Homo sapiens: one gene and its partners. The protein of the gene in region 3 binds, or shares a complex with, the protein of the main gene of each other region. Each region holds a gene or a part of one and is shown on either strand. Other genes may lie near its edges.

Evidence for each region.
Region 1: DHX9 (region 3) and YBX1 share a complex: the UniProt entries of both Homo sapiens proteins name them as parts of the coding region determinant (CRD)-mediated complex.
Region 2: DHX9 (region 3) and HNRNPU share a complex: the UniProt entries of both Homo sapiens proteins name them as parts of the coding region determinant (CRD)-mediated complex.
Region 4: DHX9 (region 3) and IGF2BP1 share a complex: the UniProt entries of both Homo sapiens proteins name them as parts of the coding region determinant (CRD)-mediated complex.

What each region holds. Positions count from the first base shown.
Region 1 is NC_000001.11:42,684,973-42,692,660, reverse strand, and holds part of YBX1 (Y-box-binding protein 1), read right to left. Parts: intron 1-7,688. UniProt on the Homo sapiens protein: DNA- and RNA-binding protein involved in various processes, such as translational repression, RNA stabilization, mRNA splicing, DNA repair and transcription regulation.
Region 2 is NC_000001.11:244,861,219-244,869,259, reverse strand, and holds the start of HNRNPU (heterogeneous nuclear ribonucleoprotein U), read left to right. Parts: upstream 1-4,778; 5' UTR 4,779-4,952; coding exon 4,953-5,643; intron 5,644-6,529; coding exon 6,530-6,641; intron 6,642-6,725; coding exon 6,726-6,799; intron 6,800-8,041. UniProt on the Homo sapiens protein: DNA- and RNA-binding protein involved in several cellular processes such as nuclear chromatin organization, telomere-length regulation, transcription, mRNA alternative splicing and stability, Xist-mediated transcriptional silencing and mitotic cell progression.
Region 3 is NC_000001.11:182,877,133-182,884,820, forward strand, and holds part of DHX9 (ATP-dependent RNA helicase A), read left to right. Parts: intron 1-888; coding exon 889-1,041; intron 1,042-2,117; coding exon 2,118-2,278; intron 2,279-3,364; coding exon 3,365-3,476; intron 3,477-4,131; coding exon 4,132-4,293; intron 4,294-4,387; coding exon 4,388-4,515; intron 4,516-6,006; coding exon 6,007-6,236; intron 6,237-6,387; coding exon 6,388-6,503; intron 6,504-7,480; coding exon 7,481-7,681; intron 7,682-7,688. UniProt on the Homo sapiens protein: Multifunctional ATP-dependent nucleic acid helicase that unwinds DNA and RNA in a 3' to 5' direction and that plays important roles in many processes, such as DNA replication, transcriptional activation, post-transcriptional RNA regulation, mRNA translation and RNA-mediated gene silencing.
Region 4 is NC_000017.11:48,993,326-49,000,384, forward strand, and holds the start of IGF2BP1 (insulin-like growth factor 2 mRNA-binding protein 1), read left to right. Parts: upstream 1-4,059; 5' UTR 4,060-4,420; coding exon 4,421-4,595; intron 4,596-5,783; coding exon 5,784-5,844; intron 5,845-5,943; exon of another isoform or gene 5,944-7,059. UniProt on the Homo sapiens protein: RNA-binding factor that recruits target transcripts to cytoplasmic protein-RNA complexes (mRNPs). This transcript 'caging' into mRNPs allows mRNA transport and transient storage.

The DNA of each region.
Region 1 (7,688 bases), about 140 Mb from region 3:
CAGTAGTAGCTCTAGCGTTTAATGACAAAGGGAACAAAGGTTACAATGAACTGGACAAACTGGCTTACTGACTGTTAGCTTCTTGCTGAACTGGGGGCAACATATGCATCAAAGGATCCACATAAAATTAACTTTAAATCTGACCTGTAAATTATAGCTTGGATTATTATAAGAACATTTTTAATTGATGGGAACAGGATAATTAAAAAAACAGAACAGGTAAACTGTAAAAGCGACTTAAGGCAAGTGACTGAAAACTGACCTTTCAAGCTAGATGATTAGGATTGCCTAGGGAAATGATGGCTGTACCTAATGTCCATCTGTCCATAACTCCATAGGCACCACAAAAACAGATTACAGCCATCATTTATTAGTTCTGCTCTCCAATATGACTGAATTTCAAACTCTAAGGCTCTAAGGGGAAATACAATAAAAAACTGGTAGAGTAAGAAAGGCAAATACAGGCAAAGTCTAGAATAGTGATTTTCAACAGGGGCAATACTTCCCCTGGCAGGGTATTTAAAGTTTTTCCAGTCCGGGTGCAGTGGCTCACGCCTGCAATCCCAGCACTTTGGGAGGCCAAGAGTTCAAGATCAGCCTGGCCAACATCGTGAAACCTCGTCTCTACTAAAATTACAAAAAATTAGCCAGGCGTGGCTGTGTGTGCCTATAGTCCCAGCTACTCTGGGGGGTGAGGCAGGAGAATTGCTTGAAGCTAGGAGGCGGAGGTTACAGTGAGCTGCTGCACTCCAGCCTGGGCAACAGAGTGAGATTCCATCTCAAAAAAAATAAAAAAATAAAATTTTTTTCCAAAGATAGGGAGCACTATCTGCATTAATGGAAGTGGTGGGTGTTAGTTGCTAGAAGACTATGTAAAGATTTGGTATAGAAAGTAAATTTGTTTATTGTTATCTGAGTCATGTATGTATTTCTGTACTGTTTTAATACGCATTAAATTCACTAAAAATGCAGCTTCTGTGGAGAATTTTTCATTACTGATAATGCTACTCATGGTATCTGGGTAATACATCATTTCTTTATCAATCCATTTTGTGGTGGCTCTGACTGTTTGTTATGCCTTCTAATGTAGTTACAACAGGTATTCACATATCAATATCATCATACCCGGCAATAAAAATAATTAAAAGTAGTTACGTGGCGAGACCCTATATCTATAAAAAATAAAAAATTAGCCGGGCCTCCATTCAAGTCCCGGAAATGAGGGTGCAGTGAGCTATAATCATGCCACTGTACTCCATCCTGCGCAACAGAGCAAGACCCTGTCTCTGCACAGAGAAAGCACAAGGCTGCCATTACACACAGGGTAATGTCACTCCTGCAAAGACAGGGAGGTGTTTTGTGGGTACATAGATAGATATGTGAAACTAACACAGTTCACTGACCAGTGTCATGACAGTAAAAACAGTATTGCAAAAGGAATACTTAGCCAGGGCCTCAAGCTCAAGGTATTTACTGAAAACGTCCTCAATTGCAATAAAAACATTATACCATTAAAAAGAGTGATTTGTTGAACCAGTGATTTAAATGTATTGATCTGCTTTGAATTTGCAACCAGCCAGAATCTCTAGTTTAAACTGGCAGTTATAACAAAAGAGACCCTCAAATATTAGACAGCTGCAGTGCAGCTTTCTGGGTGCAGGTGTCACTCTCTGCCAGCCATCACTATTCTTTTCTGTTCAGTTTTTCTCTCAGGTGTTTGCTGGGAAATTAACACTGGAACTGACCCTTTTCCGGCAGTGAATGTAAGCTCTAGCTCCCCCATCTACTAGAAAGAAATGTCTTCAAGATGTAGAAATAAGGAATATTCTGAAAATAAAAATTATACAGTAGTAAAGATAATTCAGAAAGAAAAAGCTACCTGTTAGAATTTCCAGTCTAAATGGCACAGGGTAGTTAGGGAGAAAAGGGGTTGGAGAAAGAGAAACTATGACTAAAGATGAGAGGTATGAACAAGCTGTCAAGTTCCTATGGGCTAAAGCTGGGGCAATCAGGCCCTGAACTCCAAAGCTGGATAAAGTCTTTCTTTCTATTCTTCTTGGCCACCTGCACAGTCTGACACATACATATGTACAATTAGATTTGCAGGTCACAGGAGTGCCCTGCATTGTTTTAACTAGAAATAAAAAGTATTAGTCTAAATGTGGTTCTGGTGCCCTGTATATATGTAACAATATAGGACCCCCAAAATAGATTTTGCTTCTGGTGAATCTTATTCATTGGGTTAGTGTATGACTGTCTATAATATTTTCCATTTGTATTATTACATTGGGAAAAACATTTTTATCACTTTCTATTGTTAAGAAAATGGAAAACTTAAATATGGTGTTAAAAATGGAAATATATGTGATATTTGCATTATTAAACCCCTTTGCAGATCTTAAAAAAAAAAAAAGAAAAGAAAAAGAAATAACAGTACTCAATTTTTTTTTGAGATGGAGTCTCACTTTGTTGCCTAGGCTGGAGTGCAGTAGCGATCTTGGCTCACTGCAACCTCTGCCTTCGGGGTTCAAGTTCTTGCACTTCAGCCATGAGTAGCTGGGATTACAGGTATGCACCACCACGCCCTGCTAGATTTTTAGTCTTGACTCAACTATTAACAGCTGTGTAACCTAGGAAAGCTGCCTCATTGGCTTTTTTACCTGCAAAATGAGAAAAACTACACTAAACACTTAATAACTTACATTACTAAGGTAGGTACTCAAATCTTTTTAGTATTTATTGGGCATTTACTATTCACTAATACTAGCCAGATTTCTAAATTAAAATCTAATTGCTACCACTCCTATACTATGGCCTATCCAGATTGGTAAGGGTCTTAAAAATAGACAAAATGCAACTCAAAATGGGAAAACAAAGGCAAAAAAATTTAACTTCCCTGGAAAACTTTTTAGTAAGTCAAAAGACAATTACAGCTTGCCAGATAATTCTCCATGCCACAGGAACTAGGAATTCTAGCATTTGCTTTTCATGGCCCAATCCATCCAAACTCCCGGACTCTACTCCAGCATGTTCACCATGTTTGACCCCCCTCCCACTCCTTTTAAAACATAACTATCTTTATCCTAGCTGTATATCTACATAAAAAATAAGCTAAATTTTAGAAAACTTTTTTGCCAATCCACAGTATTGCCTTAAATAAGACTTATTATACATAAATTTATCCGTAACTAAATGCTCTTATACTACTACTTTGTTGCAGATCACCAGACCACACTAGTCTAACACCTTAATTCACGTAACTGCATACACTAATTTACAATCCTGTGGTTATAAAAACTCCAGGATTTACCATCTATATGCTCCATAACCTAAAGCAACCAGATACCAATTTCCAAGCCTTGTAGATGACTGTAAGATAATAATGTCCACTTATCTTTGTATTTCTTCTCTATTAAACACCCTTCACACCCAACAGACTCACTTCTGTTTCCCACATATTGTCTATGATTCTGCCTTCGGACAAACTGTATGTTTCCAAGGGCTAAGACTGGAGGGTAGCAAACTCAGCAACTGCAGCCCCAGGACTAGGGGGACAGGAAGGTAATACAGTGTATCCTTGAATAACTCAGTATCTATGAGGGTGGATAGAAGTTTGAGGTGCCAACCTGCTGCACAGTTGAAATCTGCCTGTAACTTTTGACTCTTCCAAAATTTAATGGCTTACTCGTGACTGGAAAGCCTTACTGGTAACATAAATCCTTAACACATTTTCTGTCTTATATGTATTATATACTGTATTCTTGCAATAAAGCTACAGAAAAGAAAATGCTAAGAAAGTTGTAAGAGAAAATACATGTACAGTACTGCACTTATCGATACGGTAAGTGTACATCTGTCTGAAAGGTAATTCCAGCTGTAGACCTCATCTATAGCACATATCGAGCAACTGAACTTTTTCTTACAATGCCATGACTTTTCTCAGCATCACTAGCGCCACTTTGCATGGGTCCCATGGTGCTATTGAAGACTTACAGTATTGCACTAAACCACAATACCTGTGTACTACAAGTTCTTTTTACTGACATGCAATTTACTGGAGAGATAAACTGTTCATGTGAAGATGATTAGCGTCACATGGCATTTTAAGGGGCTCACTGCAGTAGCAATAGGCAGTGGCTACATATTATAATAGTACAATATTACTACAGTGAATGTCGTGCAGTTATGATTTAATGCTGCCTGAATCTTTATGTTTGTTTACATTTCTCAACTGCAAATGGCTGTATTAACTTTCTAATGCATTTGTGTACATTTTATGGTAGTAAATAATAAAACAGACTAGTATCTACAACATACTCAACTTTTCCTTATTTTGGGGGATACTTCTTGGCTATGTGGTTCATCTGAAGTTTTCAGGTTGTTGCAAATCTCCAAACATTTTTCCAATATATTTATCAAAAAAAATCTGTGTGTAAGTGGACTTGTGTGGTTCAAACTCACATTGTTCACGAGTCAAACTGGATACTAGTTCTCTATCCTAGATTTCAAGAGTAAAGGATTGTACTTTGGGAGGACACAGGGAGTGGGACCTACTAGTATTCTCCAAGTCACGTATCAGTGACTTGGTGAACACGGATGACTTCTTGCCAGCTTAAGATCAATGGTTAATATAACCAGCATACAAATCTCTCCTAATGTCTCCTGCATACATGTCATTGATGTTTGTCTTTAGGGTTCCAGTTTGGAACCTTCGACATCTCTCCCTTAGCAGCACCTGCAGAAAAGTCTTTAAACCTTCCCTAGTGCCAAAACATTTTGTCAGTTATGTTACGGTCTACCCATGACTTATGTGGCTTAGCAATGGATCTACTGTGATCAAGTTAAGATCAGTGTGACTTTAACAGCCCAAGAGATTTTTGGTAATGACATCCTTCCAAAGGTTTACACTTCTATTAAGAACCACACATTTGGGAGGCTGAAGCTGGAAGATCACTTGAGCCCAGGAGTGCAAGACCCATATGGGCAACACAGAGAGACTCCACTTCAAACAACCAACAACCACACAGTAAGTACTTTACACCGCCACCTTTAAAAAAGAAAAAAAAATCACCCTTTAGAGGCCGGGCGCAGTGGCTCACACCTGTAATCCCAGCACTTTGGGAGGCCTAGGCGGGTGGATCACCTGAGGTCAGGAGCTTGAGACCAGCCTGGCCAACATGGAGAAACCCTGTTTCCACTAAAAATACAAAATTAGCCTGTGTGGTGGCGGGCGCCTGTAATCCCAGCTACTCGGGAGGCTGAGGCAGGAGAATCGCTTGAACCTGGGAGGCGGAGTTGCAGTGAGCCAAGATCGTGCCATTGCACTCCAGCCTGGGTGACAAGAGTGAAACTCCATCTCAAGAAAAATCACCCTTTAAAAAGGCAATATTCAGTCTTACCTTGCAGGCCATACAAAAAAAAAAGATTAAGGGAGATAAGGTGCAACATTCTCTCCTTTAATTCTTCACCTCCCAGTATCAGGAATTAAGCAAGTCCTTTTATTTGTATAGCTGACCTACATGCTAAACTAGAACTTTTAACAATCCCAAACTTCACAAAGTAGATAGTGAAAGGCAGAAAACTTTTCAAATCCAGGACCTAGCAAGTCAGCAGACAAGAGCCCCAGTGACATACTTGGATCATTTAAGAGTCTTTCAACGGCTAAAAATAATCACCCTAAGAAATTATCTGTAACTATGTGGACAACAACCAAATTGAAAATGGCTAGGGTCTATTTCAGAGACAGCATAAGAGCAGTTGGTGAACACTAACTCCAGAGTCAAAAAACAGTTCCAATCCTGCCACTTATCACCTATGCTTATGGGGACAAGTAACAACTCCTTTGTGCCTCAGAATGACAGTACCTACGCCTCAAAGGTTTTTAAAGATTAAGTAAATTGGCTCATTTTAAGCACTTACTATAGACCCTAGTATAAATACTTGTTAGCTGTATCTATTTTCACCAACATGTGTTGGAAGTCACCTATCAGTTATGTACATATGGAATCCCCACAAGGGAGCCCCCACCCCAAAGGGAGACTAAACCTGATAGGCGTGACTAAAGAGAGATAGCCAAACCTTTCCCTGGCTTGGTTTATTACATCTTCCTAGACCATGGGTAATAAACTCAAATGCATACACAGAGGCCAGGCGTGAAGGCTGTCGTAAAAAAAGTATACCCCACCTAAATGTGGTGACAATATGGCCAGGTGGTTTTTACTTATGTGGAAATACAGGCCCCCAAAGCCAGCTAAAGTTCAGATCTTAAAAATATAATAATCTGGATTACTTGGTGTTATCTCCTGAATTATAAATGTTAGTAATTAATCCCAATTCCTTTAAAAAATACTGTACTGTCTAATCAAAGCATCTGGGAGTAGTTTTAGCCAGAAGGTCACAAATTTGTGACCTCTGCTCCAAATTCTTTCACCTCAAAACATTAAGAATTATTAATTTAAACATTTTAAGTACTCTGGAAACAGAAAAATATTCCTATTCTGGTCACTATAAACTGTTGCCAATTCATGGTAATCTTTGGTGAATATGGATCAATACTCAACCACTAACAAAATTCAACAGTAATCTGGGGGGAGCTAATAAACCCCTCTAGTCACATTCTCCGATTATGTTTTGTAGACACAGTTCACAAAAGAATAACTCAATGAATTTCTTAGAATTTCTAGATTACACAGTCTAACAAAATAAAGCCAAAACTTCTGCTATTTTTAAAAGCTCTATGCTCATGTTACTTAGCACCTTCTTCACAATATAACCATCAGGGAGAAGCCCTTTCATGAATTAATTCTAACAAGGTTGTAACAATTCATCAGGTGGTAATTCAGGCTGGAATAAACACATTTACAATGAAATTATGTCTTTAAAGGCAGAAAATTTACATACAATATTGTAATTATAAAAATTCCTTACAATCCTAGCATATATAATCCAGCGCATCCAAAAACCCCAATTAAAAGTCGTCACAATAGTCATCCCGAACACTGCACCCTCTCCTTTATACAGAAAACAGCACGTTATGTGTCAGTCTGTCTCCCTCCCTCATAAGAGACAGGTGCCTCCAGCCAAGTCTATTTGTTCCACTACACGAACTACATATAGAACCAACTGCTAGCTTCCAAAGTGATTTCTTTTATCACATACATTTTCCTTAATTAAAGCAAATCTTCCCTGTATTTAATTGGAGTCAGATTTTACAGCATCTTATTAAAAAAGTCCCAGAATCATTAAAACCAGTTCAGAAGCATAAAGAACATTTTAACCAGTTAATTTGACAAAATAATTGAGGTTAGGATAGTCCAAACAAAGGACCATCAAAAGCCAATTCATAACTTGCCCTGGAGGATGACCAATTGAGTTGATTCCAATTCAGAATAGAGATATTCAATGAACAGTATCTCATGGACTAAATACTTAAAAAATGTAAAGATATTACTCTTATTCTGGACAAAACTGTTGATTTCAAAAAATGTCATAACCTATGCCTACTTAAAAAAAATGCAGCGAAACAAGGCACATGCTAAAACTTCTTCAACACATACAAAACCTGCAATCTATCCGCTGAAAAGGCTGCAAATTTGCACACCAGAGTTACCATTACATTGGGTCAAGGGTTAAAAGCAGTGATTTTGAAGGTATGGCCCGAAGACCATTATCATTCCTGTTAAAAATGT
Region 2 (8,041 bases), about 62 Mb from region 3:
GTGTCCTCACAGGGCAGAAGACACGAACGCTGGTCTCTTCAGCTCTGTATAAATTTTCTAATCCCATTGATGAGGGCTCCACGCTCATGACCTCGTTGCCTCCAAAGGCCTCAGCTCCTAATATCATGGGGGATTAGGTTTCAACACAGGACTTTTGTGGGGACACAAACGTTCAGTCCATAGCAGAAAGCAAAAGCCAAAGTCCTTTACAAAACCACCCACGAGGCTGCTGGTGATCTGTGTTTTCCTCTCTCCCCTCTCTCCTCTCCTACCCACTCCCATCATTCCCCGCAGGCCTGAATTCTTTTGTCTTCCTCCCCCAACCTCCCCAGCTTTATGGAGGTATAATTGGTATACGATAACTGCATATAGGCCGGGCACGGTGGCTCACGCCTGTAATCCTAGCACTCTGGGAGGCCGAGATGGGTGGATTGCCTGAGCTCAGTAGTTCACGACCAGCCTGGGCAACATGGTGAAACCCTGTCTCTACAAAAATACAAAAAAAAAAAAAAAAAAAAAATCAGCCGAGGGTGGTGGTGAACGCCTGTGATCCCAGCTACGAGGGAGGCTGAGGCACAAGAATTGCTTGAACCCGGGAGGCGGGGGTTGTAGTGAGCTGAGACGGTTCCACTGCACTCCAGCCTGGGCAACAAAGTGAAACTTTGTCTCAAAAAAAAAGAAAACCCTGCATATAACTAATAAATCTATACATATTTGGTGAGTTTGGACAGACATACACACGCATGCTACCATCACCACATTCAGGAAAATGAACATATCCATTACCTCCAACAGTTTCCTTGTGTACCTTTGTCCTTTTTTTTCTTTTTCATTTTCCCTTTTTTTTTTTTTTTGAGGTGGAGTTTTGCTCTTGTTGCCCAGGCTGGAGTGCAATGGCGCAATCTCGGCTCACCGCAACCTCTGCCTCCAAGGCTCAAGCGATTCTCCTGCCTGAGCCCCTCTAGTAGCTGGGATTACAGGCGCCTGCCACCGAACCCGGCTAATCTTGTATTTTTAGTAGAGACCATGTTGGTCAGGCTGGTCTCAAACTCCCGACCTCAGGTGATCCGCCCGCCTTGGCCTCCCAAGGTGCTGGGATTACAGGCTTGAGCCCACACTGCTCCCGGCTCTTTTTCTTTTTCTTTCTTTCTTTCTTTTTTTTTTTTTTTTTAGACGGAGTCTCGCTCTGTTGCCCGGGCTGGAGTGCAGTGGTGCGATCTCGGCTCACTGCAAGCTCCGCCTCCAGGGTTCACGCCATTCTCCTGCCTCAGCCTCCCGAGTAGCTGGTATTACAGGCGCACGCTGCCACGCCCAGCTAATTTTTTGTATTTTTAGTAGAGATGGGGTTTCACTGTGTTAACCAAGATGGTCTTGATCTCCTGACCTCATGATCCGCCCGCCTCGGCCTCCCACAGTGCTGGGATTATAGGCGTGAGCCACCGCGCCCGGCCTTTTTTTTTTTTTTTTTTTTTTGAGACGAAGTTTTGCTTTGTCCCCCAGGCTGGAGTTCAGTGGCTCAGTCTCAGCTCACTGCAACCTCCGCCTCCCAGGTTCAAGTGATTCTCCTGCCTCAGGCTCCTGAGTAGCTGGGATTACAGGCGGCCACCACCACGCCTGGCTATTTTTTGTGTTTTTAGTAGAGATGGGGTTTCAACATGTTGGCCAGGCTGGTCTCGAACTCCTGACCTCAGGTGATCTGCCCACCTCAGCCTCCCAAAGTGCTGGGATTACAGGTGTGAGCCACCACTCCCGATCTTGTTTTTTGTTTTGTTTTGTTTTTTTTGGGGGGCGGGGGGGAATGAGAATATTTAACGTAAGATCTTAACGGGTTTTTTTCTTTTTCTTTCTTTTTTCTTTTTTTTTTTTTTTGAGACAGGGTCTCCCTCTGTGGTCCAGGTTAGAGTGCAGTGGTACAATCACGGCTCACTGCAGCCTTGACTGCCGGGGGTCAAGTGATCCTGCTACCTCAGCCCCTTGAGTAGCTCGGACTACAGGCGTACCACCACAGCCACCTAATTTTAATTTTTTGTGGAGATGGAGTCTCACTGTGTTCCTCAGGCTGGTTTCGAACTCCTGGCCTCAAGCCATCTTCCCATCTCGGCCTCTCGAAGTGCTGGGATTACAGACATGAGCCGCTGGGCCTGGCCAGCAAATTTTTAAGTGCAGGATACTTTGTTAACTGTAGATCTCTGGAACTGCCTCATCGTTATGACTATAAAATGTTTTTGAGAAAGTATTGAAAAAATATTTGCTGAATAAATTGTGTGACAAAGTATAGCATTTCCTTTGCTTAAACCTCAAAAATGTAAGCTAGACATGCAGAGCACCAAAACTTTGTAGTTACCTCTCACAGATCAATTATTCATAGGTCATTCTTGAATCATTTTTTGTTATTGAGAATTAACTTGTCTCCTCCGGCACGCGGTATTCTTGGTAGCCTCTAGGATTTGACACAGGGGGAATTTAAATTGTCTTAGAGGTCCTTCAGAGATTTACAGGAAGTGACCTGCACTTTAACAGGTCTCTGTAGAGCAGGACTATCATGATAGCATTAAAAATATAAGAAGCAAAAATGATCAATAAGATGTCACCATTTGTACTTTGAAGTGGTAACATAAGACTATGGAATGGCATATTTCCTCTGTTTGTGAAAAGGATAGTATGATGATGGTTCTTTGAGCAGAAATTGTTTTTCTTTCAAATGTTGTCTAAGACAGCACAATGTAATAGAAAGCCCATTGGTGTGGGGGGTGAGGGTCCCAGCTTCCTGGGCAGTAAAATGAACAGGACTGCAGATCGATCTCCAGGCCCCATCCAGCTCTAAAGTTCTCCAAAACTTTTGGAGATAAAGCCATAGAACTTTCTTGTGAGCATCAAAAGTTGTATTTCATGTTTATTTTTGCAACTGACTTAATGTTCCAAGAGTGACTGTTACAGATCTACTATATGTAGATATACAATCTTTGTTTTCATAGTTTAGTGTTTTCCAGTAAATGAAATTTGTTTTCATATAACTAATATTTAAAGGTGTAAATAATATCTAGGACACATAAATTTAAGGAACCATCATAATTGTATTTAACTCTGATTCATTAAGGGATTAGTTATCTAGTTTGTGAACATGTAAACCCCCTGTAGCTCTCTTCCCATTTCTGAACGAAGACAAAATTTCAAATTCCAGTTTGTGGCTTATTCATAACCTTCAAAATTATAACCAAAGGCTAAAATGAGTTTCTGGCACTGTTTGGAAGTTTCTATTTTGGGGGCTATCCTCACCACTTAACTTGAACTGGGGATTATCAGTAGTACTGTACATAGTCCATTAATTTCAAGTCAAATCATTTCACAAGTGTTAATATTTCACGTATACATGACTGCAAGGTATGGTAGAATGCTTCATAAAAGCTACCGAAAATAAACTTCAAAAATAAAATGTATCAATTAGTTAAATCATATTAGCCTATGGGAGAAATTTCAATGTGTTTACTTCCAAATTTCAAATTAATAATGGGGCAATATTATTGTGCCACCTAGAGCACCAAACAGTGGGTATAAACCATCTCCTTAGTCAGATGGAACACTGGCTGGACACTGCAGATTATCTAGGGTTTAAAATGTTAACTTCTATCACGAATCTAAATTCTGACTTCCCTATCTAAAACTTCGAGACATCACATCTTTTCTTTAAAGAGAAAAAGTAAACTTCTAACATATAAAATAACGGATTTCAAGAGCGATAGTCCATTTTTCTTTTTACAAAATCACAGCCCTTGATTTTTCGTAAACTTTAAGTTTCAGAATAATTTGGTCAAGAGTATTTCTACAGGAATAGGAAGAGAATCAAGTGGGCCTATAATCAAAGACCTAGTTGGGTCTCACCCTCACGGTTAGCTACTGGGACTTCGTAGCTGATGACCAGGTCCTAAAGTGGACAGAACAAGTGTTACTGGAGGTCCGTCTTTGTGGTAGCTACAGAAAACTTGGAAATGCAATTCTGAGGTTTATTCAGGGTTATTAAGAGCATGAGAATAGCTGCCCTGCAAAGGCAGGTACACTAAGGTTTGCAGTATGGAGTAGTAAGCAAAGCCTCTACTTCCCAGGCCCCGCACCCGGGGTGTGGAACAGACAAAAGAACGGTTCTGCCCTTGCCCTTCTCGAACTTAAAATCCAATTCGCAAGGCAGGACTTACACAAATTAAACCAAATACGGTATTATGAGGAAAAGAGCCGCTGCGTGTAACAGTTGCCAATGTATGCTATACCAGTCAAAACTGAAATACGATTTGAAGGAGTTTTAAACGAAGAGCTGGAGAAACACATAAGAAGGCAGATCTAAGATGGAAGAAAAGGCGGATTCGGGTTGAAACGCCAAGTTGAGGACTGAAGAAAGCATTTGGATAAAGCAGCCTCCAAGCTGGGAAGGAGAAAAGCCAAACGAGTATAGCCACCAAAGACCCAGAAAGGCCAATATATCATGCAGTGAGTCGGTTGAACTGAAAGGCGGTTTCCTTTTCCTCCATTTGCTCAGTCCCAATTGGAAGCGCACTGCGCGGCCTCCACCGCGCTCTCGGCCCGGGTTCGGCGTGGGGGCGGGGAGGTAAGTACGGTAATGGGCGGGGCCGAGCGCGGGCGCGCTCCGGCTTTCCTCCTGCGCAGTGCTCCCGTCAGCGCAGGGGGCGGGGCGCCTATATTACGTGCGCGGCGCCGCTCCTGCGAGAGGACGTTGCGTGCTCGCTCGCGCCAGGCGAGTCTCCGCGTCTCCCTCGCGAACTCGGTGAAAGGAATTGGCGCCGTTCGACACCAGGCGGATCCGCTCTGCAGCACGAACCCATCTCCAGCCGCAGCCGCAGCCGCCGCCCGGGCCGAGGAGCAGCCGCAGCAGCCGCCACCAGTGGCCGAGTGAGCGGAGCCGAGTTTGAGGCAGCGCCTAGCGGTGAATCGGGGCCCTCACCATGAGTTCCTCGCCTGTTAATGTAAAAAAGCTGAAGGTGTCGGAGCTGAAAGAGGAGCTCAAGAAGCGACGCCTTTCTGACAAGGGTCTCAAGGCCGAGCTCATGGAGCGACTCCAGGCTGCGCTGGACGACGAGGAGGCCGGGGGCCGCCCCGCCATGGAGCCCGGGAACGGCAGCCTAGACCTGGGCGGGGATTCCGCTGGGCGCTCGGGAGCAGGCCTCGAGCAGGAGGCCGCGGCCGGCGGCGATGAAGAGGAGGAGGAAGAGGAAGAGGAGGAGGAAGGAATCTCCGCTCTGGACGGCGACCAGATGGAGCTAGGAGAGGAGAACGGGGCCGCGGGGGCGGCCGACTCGGGCCCGATGGAGGAGGAGGAGGCCGCCTCGGAAGACGAGAACGGCGACGATCAGGGTTTCCAGGAAGGGGAAGATGAGCTCGGGGACGAAGAGGAAGGCGCGGGCGACGAGAACGGGCACGGGGAGCAGCAGCCTCAACCGCCGGCGACGCAGCAGCAACAGCCCCAACAGCAGCGCGGGGCCGCCAAGGAGGCCGCGGGGAAGAGCAGCGGCCCCACCTCGCTGTTCGCGGTGACGGTGGCGCCGCCCGGGGCGAGGCAGGGCCAGCAGCAGGCGGGAGGTAAGAAGAAGGCGGAAGGCGGCGGAGGCGGCGGTCGCCCCGGGGCTCCGGCGGCGGGTGAGTGCTGCGTTGTACGTTGCGCGCGGCGGGAGGCCCGCGCGGGGTGGGGACCGTGCCCCAGGCCTGCCGGAGCCCCGCAGGGGGAGGGAGCCCCGGGCGGGAGGGCGCCGCGGTGAGGGTGGGGGAGGGGGCGCGGGGAATCCCAGATTAGCCGAGAGGCCTCGGGCTCGGGGCGTGTGTGTGCGCGCGCGCGTGTGTGTGTGTGTGTGTGTGTGTGTCGGCGGTGGCAGCGCCTCCATTATGTGGCTCGAGAGCCGGGGGGAGCTGCAGCTGCCGCTGTAGGGGGAGGAGCCGCGGGCGGGCGGCGGGAGGGAGCCCGGTCGGCCCGCGGTGGCGCCGTCGCGCTGCGTGCGCGCGGTGCGGGCACATGTCTCGGGGGGAGGGGAGAGGCCCCAGGTCCCGGGGCGGGCGCGCTTTGGCGGCTCCTCGCCGCTGTATTGTGCAAGGAGCGCAGGGGCTCGGCGTGACGTCACTTCCGGCGGGAGGAGCCGGGCGGGGCGGGGCGGGGGGCGGAAGATCAGTACAATGCGGCCGCGGGGAGCGCGGGCCCGCGGGGGAGGGGAGCGCCGCCGCGCCGGGCTCGGCCCCTCCCCCTCTCTGCGCTCTCTTCGGGATACACGTGGGCTTCGGGCCTGGGCCGCGCAGTTTTTCTTTGGCTTTCTCGAATCATCGAGGAGACTGGCAAAATTAGTAATGTCTTTAGACTGCGTCACTAGCGCCAATCGAATTCGTAGTTGATTGTTCTTTGAATTCACATTTGAGTCCTCGGTTAAAACCTCAGTTAAAAAGCAGGATAAAGTCGAGCTGCTTTGGTTCTCGGAACGGAAAAGCGTTTTTTTGTTGTTTAGAGGCTTGGCCTTTATGGGGCTCGTGTGTGTTTTAGGGGACGGCAAAACAGAACAGAAAGGCGGAGATAAAAAGAGGGGTGTTAAAAGACCACGAGAAGATCATGGCCGTGGATATTTTGAGTACATTGAAGAGAACAAGTATAGCAGGTATAGGATGCTCACCTAGTTTTACTCATCCCTTATTCGTTCGTTGATCGGAAAGCTGTATCAGGAGACAATTCTGTCTTTCAGAGCCAAATCTCCTCAGCCACCTGTTGAAGAAGAAGATGAACACTTCGATGACACAGTGGTTTGTCTTGATACTTGTAAGTGAAGCTGTTTCTCCCCAATTATGAAATGCGGTGATGGTGGTTTTTTTTTTTTTTTTTTTAGAAGTCTTAATGCTTAAGTGCAGCAAAACTTGGGTTAGTTTTTTTAAAAGCAGGAAGATAATGGTTTACATTCAGAACCTAGTAGTTTAATATTTAGCACGTCATCAGTTGTATTAAGTGGATTATTTTACAGGCTCTAGGAGTTTCGTATTTTTATGACTTGAAAGTTCTCATTCTTAGGAAATGTAAAATTAATGCCAGTTTTTGACTAGCTAACGGAAACTTGTAACACTACCTATAATTTAGCCTTACAGGCTTCTACAATAAAGTAATTCATTTTTTTGTGGAATTATATTAAGTGAGCTATTTGGGCTAGTTAAATATTTACTAATGACTTCTCCCATTAGCACACAAGTATATTCCCTATTTTAAAAGATTGTAATATTACTTTTTCAATAACTGCTCTTTTGTTCTCAATTCCAGTTCAGTAGCTGCTGCTTTAAACATAAGTTGATTTCTTCCAAAGACCTGAGGCAGCAGCAGTGGGCTATCACTGGGCCACTAGCTTTCTTCAGCAGCGAATGGTATCAATGGCAGTGCAGCACTGTAAATACTGCTACTTTACCCAGTTGGGTTGCAATTGAGTGAGAAAGTATTGCAAACCTCTAAGTGGGCTTTGACTGTCAGACTTGTTTTTTTTTTTTTTTTTTTTGTTACAAAAAAACGTAGTTGGTTTAGTGATGAGAATGTACAACTCTGGGTGTGATAAATAGACCAAAGGATAAAAATAACTGTTTCAAAAGTATCAGCTATGGTGTCAGCCTGCTGTGTTAGATGGAAGGCATTGGAGCTTAGCTTCTCATGTTTTCTTGTACAAATTGGCTTTATTCAGATTTGTAAGAGTGTCAATGTAAAACTCTTTCTTACTGGAATATCCTTTACAGAAGGTTGAGATAGTCATCTGAGCCTTTTTAAAAGAAAAAACTGCAGGTGAAAAAGGAGTTAGTTGATGTGAAAGTTTTAGTGAAATTCTGGGTTGTATAAATAAGTTGCTAGGAATTGGCAAGGTAGTGAAGTGGTGACTCACACAGGTAATGTAATTGTTAGATTTTTTAGCAAATCAGGAATATGTCAATATAAGTACAATGTTGAATTCAAACAATCTGTTGAATTAAATTCTGTTGATTAGAATAACTCTAATTTAAGAAAAATTCCAAACTGTAGATTTATTTTTCT
Region 3 (7,688 bases):
ATTACTTCTCATTGCTCTTGGCTGCTGGTGTCTCACTTATTTCCCATTGGGTGTTTCCATTGATCACTGCCATACTATAGCATGCTGTTTGATGAATAAAGATGACCAGTGTTTAGCACATGACAAATATCCTACCTTGAAGGACACTCCTTTAAGGATTAAGGGTCTTCATTTTGGTATGAGATGAGCCTGGAAAAATATACCAGGAGACATTCTGTGTAGATACAGGAATTACATGGTAATTGATAAATTGAAAGGACAAAAAAGTTGAAACTTGGTTATATCTGGCCAACTTGTACCCCATGACTTCTCTTTATAATTCCTTAGTCTGTCCTGACAATGAAAACAATTTGCTGCCAACATCCATTTTAGGAAATGATGAATAGCATTCTGTGCCAATCCCAGTCATTTAGTGGCAGCTGTCTCTGTATGTAACATTGAAGGAATCTGAGGTTACTTGGGGGTTCAAATGGACCACACAGGCATCACTAGATACAGATATCCTAAAAGTTACACTAAACTTTGGAATAGAGATGACTTAAATAATTACTTTCTTTTGTGTATGTGCCATATTCCATTTAAATGCTTTGCATTTGTTAATTTATTTAATGTTTACCAAAAAAACTATAAGGTAGATAATGGCATGCAAAGTTTGGCCAAGGCAGTTCAGCTGATAAGTGGCAAGTGGATGTTACATTGCCTTTTAGTAGGTTGACAACTAGGAGTTTGCAGTCAGATTGCTGATTCTTACTTGTGCCATTCATGAATAGACATCACAAGTAGGTATGGCTTTAACTACATAGTGGAAAGCATTCACTACTTAGTGGATATATAATAGTTATTGATAATACACATGAGTCTTAGAATTAACCACTTTTTCCTATGTAGGCAGAAAGTGAAACTCTTCACTGCTCACAACAATATGACCAACTATGCTACCGTATGGGCATCAAAAACAAACCTTGAGCAACGGAAAGGGCGAGCTGGCCGAGTACGGCCTGGATTCTGCTTTCACCTGTGCAGCCGAGCTCGTTTTGAGAGGTAAGACCCATTCTTGACCTTTAGTAAGGGATTTTTGTTCTGTTCTCTGTAGGGACAGATGTGTGCAGTTATGTAAACCTGCCAATATAAGCTGATCTAAGTCTTGCCAGCCATGTTGGAATCAGGTGTAAATGTTTCGTAAGAATCTTCATCACAAATCATTTAGAGAATAAGCCAGATTTAGAAATATAGAGACCTAGATTTTAATATTATTTGTGCCTAATACATTGTATAACACTAAGTGGTTACTCCTTAGGCCTGCATTTCCCTCATTCTATAAAATATTAAGTTACTTAACCTCTCTTGTTTCCTCAGTTGTAAAAAGAATATAAATAATGCCTAACCCATAGGGTTGGTATAAGTATTAAATGATTTAATAATGTAAAATACTTTGAACAGTGTATGGCACATCATGATCTCCCAATAAGTGTTTGCTGTTGTTAATTTATACAGGTCAGATATCTCTTTTAAAACTGAAATGCTTGGGACCAGAAGTGGTTTTGGATTTTTTTTCTTGGTAATATTTGCATTGTATTTACCAGTCGGGCATCCCTAATCTGAAAATATGAAATCCAAAACGCTCTAATGAGCATTTCCTTTAAGTGTCATGTCAGAAGTCAAAAAGTTTTGGATTTTAAAGATACATCTATAAGAGCCTTTCTAGTGGCACTAAAATTACATGAACTAGGAAGGTGGGAGGTTGTAGAGAAATGTTAGTATGAGTTATCATCCTACAAAAAGTCTTGTTGTCGTTTTTAACCCATGTTTGTCAACAGGCAAGGCCTGAAGAGACCATGGGTGGAGCTAATAACATTCGCGATTTTGGATAATTTTTTCATTTTTCTTCTCAGCCTAAAAGGCTATCAAGCTGTGAGGATAAGTCAGAAACCACTATGCAACCAGATTAAATTTTGTCAACAGTGTGTATAGTGAACGATAAAAGGTCCGATGGTAATTGTAAAATAAAAGGATGAGGAAAAGGCAGCTCTGTATCCCTGATTACCTTGCTGCAAAAAGTTTATTAACATCTGTGTATACACAAGGAGGATGGTTATTTTATGCTTATTTTCTCTTAGACTTGAAACCCACATGACACCAGAGATGTTCCGAACACCATTGCATGAAATTGCTCTTAGCATAAAACTTCTGCGTCTAGGAGGAATTGGCCAATTTCTGGCCAAAGCAATTGAACCTCCCCCTTTGGATGCTGTGATTGAAGCAGAACACACTCTTAGAGGTACTTACAAATACAAACCTACTTGACGCAGATATTAATCATACCATCTGTCTTGTTCTGGCAGATAACACTTACAAATGAATCAAGATGATGAAGATGTAGTCAACAGGGCTGTGATAATAATAGTAAGGCCTCCAGTCTTACCTTAGATAGTTAGTATAGTCACTGTTCTAATGAGCAATGAGAAGGAAGAAAGGGACAATGTGAGTCTTTAAAAAAGAAAAGAAAACTTAAAAAGGCATCTCTTAACTATGTACTAAAGATCAGAACATAACTTACTCATGATACCCACAGTATTTCATATGAATCTCTTACAACTTTTTTTGTTTTTTTGAGACGGAATCTCGCTCCATTGCCCAGGCTGGAGTGCAGTGGCGTGATCTCAGCTCACTGCAACCCCCACCTCCCAGGTTCAAGCCATTCTTCTGCCTCAGCCTCCCGAGTAGCTGAGACTACAGGCATACACCACCACACCCGGCTAATTTTTATATTTTACTAAGACAGGGTTTCACCATGTTGGCCAGGCTCTTCTGAAACTCCCGACCTCAAGTGATCCACTCACCTCAGCCTCCCAAAGTGCTGGGATTACAGGCAGGAGCCACTGTGTCCAGCCTGGAACATTTATTTTTTCTTGCTAAACTTGTTAGAGGTACAGTGAAAATTAAGGGCATTGGAGCTAGATCTGAATTTGAATTTTGAATCTAGCATTTATCTACTATGTAACTTCAGAATTTTCTCTAGATTTTATTTTTTTTAAAACATTAACAGCTGGGTATCAGACTTCTTATGGCATGTAGAAACTTACGCTGCTATTATAGTTAATACTGTATTTATAGACTTCATATGAATTGTATTTGTTTTTATAACCTACAGGATTTAGTTGTAGTACCTTTATGTTGGGTGCTCCAGATTTTGATTTTGTTCTATTTTTGAGTACAGAGAATTGTTGGCCGTAGACATGGTATTAGCGATTGGCTTGACAAAAGAGGAACTCTAAACTGTCTTAACCTTAATTTAGAGTAATGTTTTGTCTGCCTAAAATTAGTGTTCATTTGTTTCTGCTCACAAAGAACTATCTCCCCACAGAGCTTGATGCATTAGATGCCAATGATGAGTTGACTCCTTTGGGACGAATCCTGGCTAAACTCCCCATTGAGCCTCGTTTTGGCAAAATGATGATAATGGGGTGTATTTTCTAGTAAGTGCTTTGTTTTATTTCTCTTCGTTAAGTGGCAGAATAATTTCAGAATCTTCTCCTCCCTGTAAAAGCAGTATTGGCTCAGATAGACAAAAAAAAAATCCTAAATGTTCTTCAGGGAAGTAACATACCTAGATATTGAGAGCAGTGTAACACTAAAAAAATGAACAGTTCCAGTAGGTGGATATCTGGGCCCAATATGGGGAAAAGGGCACTGATTTCTCAAAAGTTAAAAGCAAGCAGGCCAGGCAATGTGGCTCACACCTTGAATCCTAGCACTTTGGGAGGCCAGGGTGGGAGGGTCCCTTGTTATTAATAGTTGGTCTTGAAAGAGCGGTGTCAGGAAAAGAGGTTTATTTTATCAGAAAATGTTGAAGATTAAGAGATTTGGTATGATGGGGAAGAGAGAATATAAAAGGAAAAATATACTTGGTCATAATTTATGATAAATATGTGGCCATTAGAGCATCAGAGCATTTTTTTCTTTCTGATTCTGAAGAGAGCAGCTATAAAGTTCTTTGTTAAGCCAGTTTCATTGCAAATAAAAGTAGAATCATAGCCATAAAGACTGCAACCCACAGTCGACAGTCCTACCTGAGCTGCTGGCAACAACATTGTGATCTAGTCTGGATTTAACTGTCTTTGTGTATTTCAGCGTGGGAGATGCTATCTGTACCATTGCTGCTGCTACCTGCTTTCCAGAGCCTTTCATCAATGAAGGAAAGCGGCTGGGCTATATCCATCGAAATTTTGCTGGAAACAGATTTTCTGATCACGTAGCCCTTTTATCAGTATTCCAAGCCTGGGATGATGCTAGGTATGAGTAAGATTTGGGTGAGCTGTCTGTAGTTTCTCATTTGTATTTAGTTCTCTGGTCTTAGAGAATGATTTCTCATGCCAATTTATTTTAGAATGGGTGGAGAAGAAGCAGAGATACGTTTTTGTGAGCACAAAAGACTTAATATGGCTACACTAAGAATGACTTGGGAAGCCAAAGTTCAGCTCAAAGAGATTTTGATTAATTCTGGGTTTCCAGAAGGTAAGACTTCTTCCATTCTTAAGATATCTTTAAAGTGACATTTATATAGTACATGCAAATTGACAGCAAAGTGTATTTTAGTTTCAAATTTTAGACCCTATGATTTTTATATATTCCCGACTATTTCTTAGTTCTCGTGAACACTGGTCTAGTTCCCAGAATGAGTACTTTGCTGATAACCTTATAGTGGTTTGCAAAGTAATTTATTAGCATTTAGACTTGAAGTAAATTCTACCACATTAAATTTTAAATGACTTTAATTTATACTTTCGGTGTACAGATGATTAAAGGACTTTATGACATCTAACATAGAAAAAAACCAACCCATGTTTCTTGATGAGCTGTAGTACTTTTCTTTTCCAACTAGGTTAAAATATAGAATTACTTCCTAAAACATTGAGAACTGGAATGCATAACCAGAAATAAGACTGTTGAGAGACAGAAGGTAGTTGGGCAAGATGGTAAATTTTTAAAGGCTGTAATTGGAATAACTAAACAAAGTAGTGAGTGGTTCTCTTCTGTCATAAGCCAGCCGAAATTTTAGTTTTTCCTCAAAATTATAAGAAAGGGAAAACTTCATGTGCTAGAATCTTGAGATGAATTTTACAGGTAATGAAACAGGCACCAAGGTATAAATTGTCTTTAATTCATCCAATTAGGAGGCTATAAGACTAGAACTCGTTTGTCTAGAACAAAATATGTCTGTGCTTTCAGCGGTTGACTGTCATGCTTTCCAGTCAGTAGCTAAGTACTCAAAGTGTAGACTGGGTAAAAACGTCAGCCTTCATTCCAGTAGGTGTCCTCTTAGATTATCTCCATCTTCTCTACAACTAACAGCTATTTAAGAGTAGCAGATAAATACTTTGTGGTCCTATCAGTCAAGCTCTTATTCTCAGAGTAGATGGTTGATTGGGGGACTTTAAAAAGTAATCACCCCGGCCGGGCGCAGTGGCTCACACCTGTAATCCCAGCGCTTTGGGAGGCCGAGTCAGGTGGATCACGAGGTCAGGAGATCGAGACCATCCTGGCTAACACGGTGAAACCCGTCTCTACTAAAACTACAAAAAATTAGCCGGGCGTGGTGGCGGGTGCCTGTAGTCCCAGCTACTTGGGAGGCTGAGGCAGGAGAATGGCATGAACCCGGGAGGCAGAGCTTGCAGTGAGCAGAGATGGCGCCACTGCACTCCAGCCTGGGCGACAGAGCGAGACTCGTCTCAAAAAAAAAAAAAAAAAGTAATCACCCCAAGCTTATTTATGGTTGAGTCTATAAGAGAATAGAGACGTTTTCGTTTTCTTATTGTGGAAACTCAGTAACATTACTCCTTGAACTTAATCTGGGTGTAAGGATTCTGAGAAGAGAAAGTTTTACAGACAGGTTATGTGAAAAGAGTGAGGAAGAGTCAGTTCTCTGAATTATCTTAAATAGTTTGCATGTAATGTGAAGATCAGCCAGTTATCTGATTTTTGTTTTCACTGTGCTCCTCTTAACAGATTGTTTGTTGACACAAGTGTTTACTAACACTGGACCAGATAATAATTTGGATGTTGTTATCTCCCTCCTGGCCTTTGGTGTGTACCCCAATGTATGCTATCATAAGGAAAAGAGGAAGATTCTCACCACTGAAGGGCGTAATGCACTTATCCACAAATCATCTGTTAATTGTCCTTTTAGTAGCCAAGACATGAAGTACCCATCTCCCTTCTTTGTATTTGGTGAAAAGGTAAGAAAAGACTAGAAAAGTTTACATTGAAAGTTGAAATTGTCTTTACAATCATTAGGAACATGAATTTTGATTTTCAAAGCACAGTATATAGCGGTATTTGGAAGTTGGAATGTCAACCATTTTGTATTGTCTCTTTCTCCATTTGCAGATTCGAACTCGAGCCATCTCTGCTAAAGGCATGACTTTAGTCACCCCCCTGCAGTTGCTTCTCTTTGCCTCCAAGAAAGTCCAATCTGATGGGCAGATTGTGCTTGTAGATGACTGGTATGGATTTTCAGATGTGAACTCCAAACTGAATTCTTAGAATTACAATATGATGGAATTCAGCTGCTAATCTAACTTAATTATATACTAATTATATCTAACTTAATTATATACTATATACTTAATCTTAAATTGATACCAGTAGAAGCAAATGCATTAGGAATTTGAGCCATGTCTACCACTAGGCACACCACCACTATGGAATCAGAATCTAAGTGAAGCTTGAGTACCCTTTCACATACTCTGTATATTGATTCAAAACTAGTGGTAAGCACTGGGCAAAAATGGAATAGAGCTTAATGGACAGCCAGTAGGCTCAGCCATCATATTCTTGAAAACCTAGAAAATGCCAGTATTCTGGGTCTCTTAAATTCATTATTTTAAAGTCTGGATGATCTGGCTGGGTGCGGCACATCACTTGGGCTCAGGAAGTTCAAGATCAGCCTGGACAACATGGTGAAACCTGTCTCTACGAAAAATCCAAAAAAATTAGCCCCGTGTGGTAGCGCACACCTGTAGTCCCAGCTATTCTGGAGGCTGAGGCAGGAGAATCACTTGAACCTGGGAGTTGGAGGTTGCAATGAGCTATCACGCCACTGCACTCCAGCGAGGGCAACAGAGCAAGACTCTGTCTCAAAAAAAAAGAAAGTCTGAATGATCCATATTGCTGGACTTTGTTTTTTGTTTATTATATATTGCATATATTTTTATTATATTTTATTTGGCTTGATAGACTTTTTGGCTTAAGACTCCTGCTCATAGCTAGCAGTGAATTTTAAGAAGCTAGTGCTGATTATAACTACTCTTCATATCTGTGTTTGCCTAAGTTTGGGGCCATTATAAGTAGTTTTTTTTTTTAATATTAATGCTTAAGAAGTTAAATTTATTCTATAATGTGCCATGTGTGAAGTTGAGAGATAATGGTCTTTTTCTACATATACTCCCTCTCTTATTTTTAATGTATTTCGCCACTTTAGGATTAAACTGCAAATATCTCATGAAGCTGCTGCCTGTATCACTGGTCTCCGGGCAGCCATGGAGGCTTTGGTTGTTGAAGTAACCAAACAACCTGCTATCATCAGCCAGTTGGACCCCGTAAATGAACGTATGCTGAACATGATCCGTCAGATCTCTAGACCCTCAGCTGCTGGTATCAACCTTATGATTGGCAGTACACGGTGAGTA
Region 4 (7,059 bases), on a different chromosome or scaffold from region 3:
AGTGAAAAATTAAGATATAAAAATGATAAATTTTAAACCATTATAAATGGACAAATGCTGAAAAATAAACATTTACAAGTAAAATTAATTTTCTATGACAAGTGAAATTATTGATTTTTAATTTTTCTATTTTTTCTTTTTTCATTTTTTTAAACTTTTTTCTTTCCTTTTTGTCTTTCCTTTTTTTAACTTGGCTTATTTCTCCAAGAAAAATATTCTTTTATTTTCATCTTTAAAAAAGTTGGTTTATTCTCTCAAACTTTTTTTTTCCTCTCTGCATGTATTTGTATATTCACATTGGAGGAAAATGGATTATTATCCTATCTTTAAAATGGAGTCAAATGTCAGTGTTTCTGAATTCAGATAATTAAATTCCATAACTAGACCAAACTGTTCTCCAGGAAAAAATAAAGAAGAGGAGGAAGAGGAGGAGAACAAGAAGAGGAAGAGGTATAACAGTATTAATATTACTATGTAGAATATACAATATATATTATATACGATATGTATTATAAAGGATAATTATTAAAGAAAAAACCATTTAATCCTGTAGCTATATTTTTAACTCTTACACAAGTGTAACTCTGCACTAAAGATTTATCTGTCCCAAAGAAGCAATGTAGAAAAAAAATTGAAAATAAATACAATATTTGATAGTAATCTTTAATGTTAACAAAAACAAAGAAAAGAAAGATGAAAAGTTATGGTACCTCAAGTCTGCCCATTTTTATCCCTAACCTAGGAATGTCAGTCTAGATAAGAAATAACCCTTAATGTGAGTGCTGGGCTCATTCAAAAGGGAGAGATGAAACACCAATCAATGTGATTTAGTTCCCCCAACCCCAGCCTAAAATAGCCAGGTCACTAAGGCAAAACTGATTTGGGGGCTAAAAAGATCTGTATCTCACCCCTGTTGTCTCCTCTCTTGTATTCTTGCAGCCTTTGCAGCTTCTGACTATACACACATAAGCCTTTTTTTGGGGGGTGGAGAGGATTAGAATTCAGTAAAACAGCTGATTTTTTAAAAAGAACTAATCAGTTTCAATTTAGCAATTATTGGTAATTTTTAATTAAATATTTAAAAGGATTTAAAAATAGCAGATTGTTCAAGTGAAATTTATATATTCTCTTCTAACGTTATCTTAAATACATTAAAACTGATTTCAGCTAACATTTAGTTAGTATATTTTTACATGGAAAAAAATCAACCTGAAAGTGAACTGAATTCACTGATTATTTTTAAAAATGTTGTTTCCCATTGACTCTAGGATAGTAAAAAGTGGACTGCATTTTATAGGAGTTTAGAGGTCTGGATGGAGATTTTTATGGGGTGTAACTTGCTTTTGTTTTAGGCATACAGAGGCAGAGTAGTGGATATGTCCCCCAGGGAGACAATCTGAGAAGTGCTTTTATTAGCACCTAAAGATTCAAATTAAATGAAAGAAACAGCACTTAAAGTTTCTGGGAACTGGGATGATCTGCCTAGTTGCCCTCCTCCTTGTTCCCCAATATAACAGAAAAGATTTAAGGAGATTGGGGCTCCTCTTTAGGAAAAGGCCAAGAAATACAACAGCCTTTTTGAGACCATCTTTTAGCCCTTTCAAAAGTCTACACACATCACCAAGAAAAGTTCCCGGGCAACAGAGCCACACGTTCTGGCCAAGATAATTTTTTCCCCCCTGGACTCTAATTTTCATCAATTCTCTTTGCTGTGCTGTTTGTATTAGCTTGTTTTTCATTTAAAAAAATGTTTATTGAGTGCCTACTATGTGGCATGCCTGTTTCCTACTCATTGGTTTGTTTAAAAATAATGCTTGTGACCAACAGCTAAGTATTAAGAGTCAGATAAGGGGGGAGGGTCGGAGGTGTGTGTGTGGGGGTGAGACACAGATGTCTCCCACCTTCTTGGACAGAAAATATTCTCTTTCTACTCAACAACAAATAGCTCCTAGTACTTTAATTCTTGTTGTTCCATGGGAAAAAAAAATCACAAAAACAAAAATCCGACAAACACGTGGCTGGGTAGAACAAAACGCTCATTGGGGAGGGTGGGCTCTAAGGTGGTGGAGGATATAGAGAAACCGAGTTGGAAGCCCTCCCCCGCCCCTAAGTCCCAGCCCCATTTCTTTTCAGCGCGCCGGGAAAACGGGGAGGGGGACAAAGGTGCTGCGTGCTGTCTTTCAACTCCCGACTTTTTGAATGGCATACAATCGTCCGGCCGCAGAGCGGTGAGCCAAAGTCGGAGTCAGCTCAGACTCTGCAAACGAAAAATAATAACAATAAAAAAAATTCAAGGCATTCATATCGGTGTAGTCAACACGTGTTGCGGAGTCGGCCCGGGCCGCAGGCGACTGAGACAATGGGGTCGGGGACTGGGGAAGGGGAGTGACCCCCTTCCTCACCTGCCCTCCCAGCACGCGTGCCCCCGCTAGAATTATCCTCCCTCCCACAGAGTCCGGAGTAACACCCCAGTTTTCGCCCTGTTCAAGGGGATTCCAGAATTTCTGGGGGTCGACCCCTCCTTTTTCCCCGTTCCCTGGGCGAGGGGGTTCCAGGGTCTCCGGGCCGCGCTCTCGGCCACCCCTGGCGCCATCCCAGCCTCCGCCGCTAGAAACTCGTTGGCCTCGCTCGCCGCTCCGCCGTGGAGCCGGGGCTTGCCCGTGGACCGCGCGTCCCGCTCTCCGCCGCGTATCCGGGACTCCGAAACGCGCGGCGAGCAGCCCCCTCCCCCACCGCCCAGACGGGGTGCGACCGCCCACGTGTCGCCCCTTGCCCAGTCGGGTCCTTCCCTCGGGCTCCGGGAGCCGGAGGATCCGGAATGAGTTGGTCAAAGCCGAGGGAAGGGACCCAGGCGGATCCGCTTCCCCCTCCCCAGGAACGGCGGGAGGAGGAGGGGAGTGGCCGCCGCCCCCTCCCCTAAGCTCCCGCCCCTCGCTTCCCCGTGCGCGGAGCGGAAATTACCCCCTCCCCCCGCGGGTCTGACCTGGGGACGTGGGCGGGGCTTCCCGCTTAGCCCCCCGCCCTCCGTCCCTCTCCCGCCTTCCCGCCAGGATCGGAATCCTGCACCCCAAACAAAGTTCCGAGACCCGAACCTAGGGCCTAGAGAGCTGCCAGCAGTGTCCCGGGTGGTGCAGGCTCTGGAAACTCCACCTGTCTGTCCCCGACTCTGGGAGGGAAAAGGGGACCATTCAAATCTCCACCCGGTCACTCCCTCCCTAAGACCTCCCCCTTCAGTTCGCTCCGGTTAGCCCTAGCTATCACTCCTCTTCCTTGTCTCCCACCGTTCCTGTCTCCTGGAGTCATCTCCGGCCAGTTCCGCGTGTTCCCCTCAGGACCCCGAAACGTTATCATTTAACAGCCGGACCCCGGGTGCGAACCACCCTTTCTCCCGTGGGGATCTCAAAACATTATTTCCTGCGGCTTCCTCGTTCTCCACTGGGATACCCCGTTCCCAGCTTTCCAGTCCCGCGCTCGCAGGGTCCCCCGGTCCTGCATCCCCGGAGGCGGGGGAGTTTCGTGGGGCTGGCGTGGGGAAGGCGGAGACCCCCCCCATTTAAACATCTAGGGAAAAGGTTCCTTTCTTTTTAAATCACCAGCTCGTGCGACCCTCTCCTGAAGACCCCAGAGTCTTCGGCTTCTCTTTGTCTGTCTCGGCCGTCCCCCGCCTGTCAGTCGCTAGCAGTTAACCGGGGAGGGGTGAGCAACCCCGCCCCCCAAAACGAATGAAAAATAACCGTACATTTTACCCTTTAAGACATGTGAGATCTGGGCTGGACCATCCTCCCCCAGTTTGGGCTGGGGTAGGGGGATGGGTGGGGGCGGGGCGCTTCCCTAGGGGCCAGGTTCTTGCAAAGGGGGAAGGGGCCTGTAGAGCTTCAGGGACGCTGCCGCACCGCCCCAGTTTACCCCGGGGGTGAGTTGAGTTCCCCACCCTCAGGCGGGAGATTATCGGGTTTGGCCGGAGGGCCGAGGGGCCCTGTGGCGTCGGGGGTCTTTCCCTGCAGGGTGGGTGGGGGCTGTCACCACGTGGCTTCTCCTTTTTTTTTTTTTTTTTTTTTCCGCTCCATTTTTTTTCAAGTCGATTTTATTTAGAGGCGGCGCCAGGGCGGCCGCGGAGAAACGTGACACACCAGCCCTCTCGGAGGGGTTTCGGACCGAAGGGAAGAAGCTGCGCCGTGTCGTCCGTCTCCCTGCGCGCCGCGGGCACTTCTCCTGGGCTCTCCCCGAACTCTCCCGCGACCTCTGCGCGCCCTCAGGCCGCCTTCCCCGCCCTGGGCTCGGGACAACTTCTGGGGTGGGGTGCAAAGAAAGTTTGCGGCTCCTGCCGCCGGCCTCTCCGCCTCTTGGCCTAGGAGGCTCGCCGCCCGCGCCCGCTCGTTCGGCCTTGCCCGGGACCGCGTCCTGCCCCGAGACCGCCACCATGAACAAGCTTTACATCGGCAACCTCAACGAGAGCGTGACCCCCGCGGACTTGGAGAAAGTGTTTGCGGAGCACAAGATCTCCTACAGCGGCCAGTTCTTGGTCAAATCCGGCTACGCCTTCGTGGACTGCCCGGACGAGCACTGGGCGATGAAGGCCATCGAAACTTTCTCCGGTAAGAACACAGCCACCTCCCGGAAAAGCCACAACGAGAGCCCCGAACAACGGAGACCCGCACCTTCCGGTTCCTCTCCCGCCAACTCCTCTCTTCCCGGGCCTGCGGGGTTTGGCCTCCGTACCCACCCTCGACCTACCCCCTTCGATGCCCCCTCCCTCGCTCTGCGCCTCCCACCCCCGCGCAGAAACATTCGGGATTTCCTCATCCCTTTCTCCCAGCCTGAGATAAGGAGCTCTGGCTTCCCCCATCCTTCCTCCCCACCGACGGGGCGGGAGCCCCCACTGGCAGTAGTGGGGGGTTGAATTTAGGGACACGGGGATGACCCCTGGCTGGGCGTTATTTCCACGCCCAGCCCCTCCCTATCCGCCGGTGGACGCCCCCCCAGCTGGAAAACCCCGGCTCCCGTTCCTCAGTCTTAGGCCTTTCCAGGCGTGGAAGGGGTACCCGGACCGCCTGCGATCTGTCCGCTTCGCGTGGGGAATGCAGCCCTCCAGCAGGACTTGCAAGGAAGGGGGTCTTGCCTCCCGCCCAGGGCCTGGGGCTTGAGCCATTTTGATTTGAAAGTGGGGCGTGAGCGGGGTGGCGCGGCGGCGGCGGCGCCGGGTCGCCATGCTGCTTCCCGAGACGCCGAGGCTGGGCCGAGAGGCGCGCGCGGTGGCAGTGAGGGACCCTCCCCGCCAGGCCCCGCTCCGCTCCCCCAGGTCCACCCCTTCCCAAACCAGCCCCGACAGGTGACCGCTCCGTGGCCCAAAGCCCGTCTTCCTGGCCAACAGAGAAAAATAAAGTTTCATTCTGCACACTGCCTCCCGCCCCGCGCCCCACTTTCTGAGGAACGGGGAGCCCTTTCTTTCCTGGCTCCTTCCCACATCTGGGAGCTGTGTAGGCAGCGCACCCACACAAATGGCCTCGCACCTTTCCCAAATCGGGATTCCAGAGCGATCCACTCAACAAGCCTCAGTGATTTAATAAAGCAAAAATTAAAAAATGAATAATAACGAATTTACAGACTCCACCATTCCTAGAGCAACCTTTTTCCCATCTGGATGCGGAAGCCACTGCCTGGATTCCTAGGAAGATCTCGAATCCCAGTAACTCCTGAATTATCCTAGTGTCTTTTCCCCTTCCTCTTCCCACCCCCAACCCCTGTTCAAGCTCTCATGGTAATTTTTTTTTTTTAATCTTTAGGGAAAGTAGAATTACAAGGAAAACGCTTAGAGATTGAACATTCGGTGCCCAAAAAACAAAGGTAGGAAAGAGCTCTTTTCGGGGGGGGTGGGGGGGCCGCGGGGGTGTGCTGTGAAGCTGTGTTCAGGGGTCCATAGCGTCTCCAGTGGAAGAAACCCATTACTGGTCTTTCCCACCCCCAACTCCGGATGTTGGGGGCAGGGAGGGAAGATTGGCCAAGATCTTGTAATGGGTGGTTTACAGCTTGTAAAAAAAAAATAAATAAGTTGGGGCTGGGGTAGGCTAAAAGATGTTACTTGCAGAATTAAAGGGGAAAGAAAATCAATAGGGGAGAAACCTTGTGGAGTTTGTTTGTTCAACTCGTGGGGCCGTTTTTTGTGGGGGAACCTTAAAATCTTTGAAGAGTTCAGACTCATGGCGATTTCTGCAACTTCGTAGCAGGCCTCATTTTCTGTTTTTCCCACTCTTTCCACACCATAATTCTTAAGTGGATTGCCCTTCTCCCGAAGCGATGTGGAATGAGTTTCCCGGCCCCCAAAGAATCCCCTTATGCTTGTACTTTATTTATATTTCTACAACAGGCAAAGACTTTTTATTTTCCATGGACCCCCCACCCCCAATCCCTCATATCTCACATCATCCCTCTCCCCAGCTGGATTTTCCAAAGAATATGCCTTGGCTGTACTATCCTTTTCGAGCCCCCCTACCCCCACTCCTTCAGCCCATTGTTACCAGGGGACCATCTGGGGTGAGAGCTTTGTGTTGAGGCTGTGAGCTGGGGCTCTTTGGAGGGTCTAGAACTCCGTGGATGAATGGTGTGTGTGTGTGTGTGTGTGTGTGTGTGTGTGTGTGTGTTCGTGTGTGTTCCAATACCCTCTATCCTCTCTCTTCAGCAAAATGGGGTACCTCCATCATACTTACCGAGAATTCATGGTGGATTTCAAATCTTGCATTGAACTCTGAAACCTTTCCTTGAACTCTGGCTGGGAAGTATAAGGGCAGAGTCTTTCTACTTTCTCAAATCAGACTTTAAACATGTTGACAGTGTAGAGTTTGCTCTCATGTCCCAAGCTGGAAAGCAGCCCCCAGTAAATCTTTGATCTTCCTCACCCCCCATTTCAGCTGAAAACTTGGTACATTTCAGGATAGTCTCTGGCCTTTTCCGGGTAGATGGGAGATGATGACTGCTTTTTCTGGGGGACCATTAAGAGGGCCTAGAAAGTTTAATGTGAGATAAAAATCTGTTCAGTTGCTTAGCTTGATATTTAAGTAACTT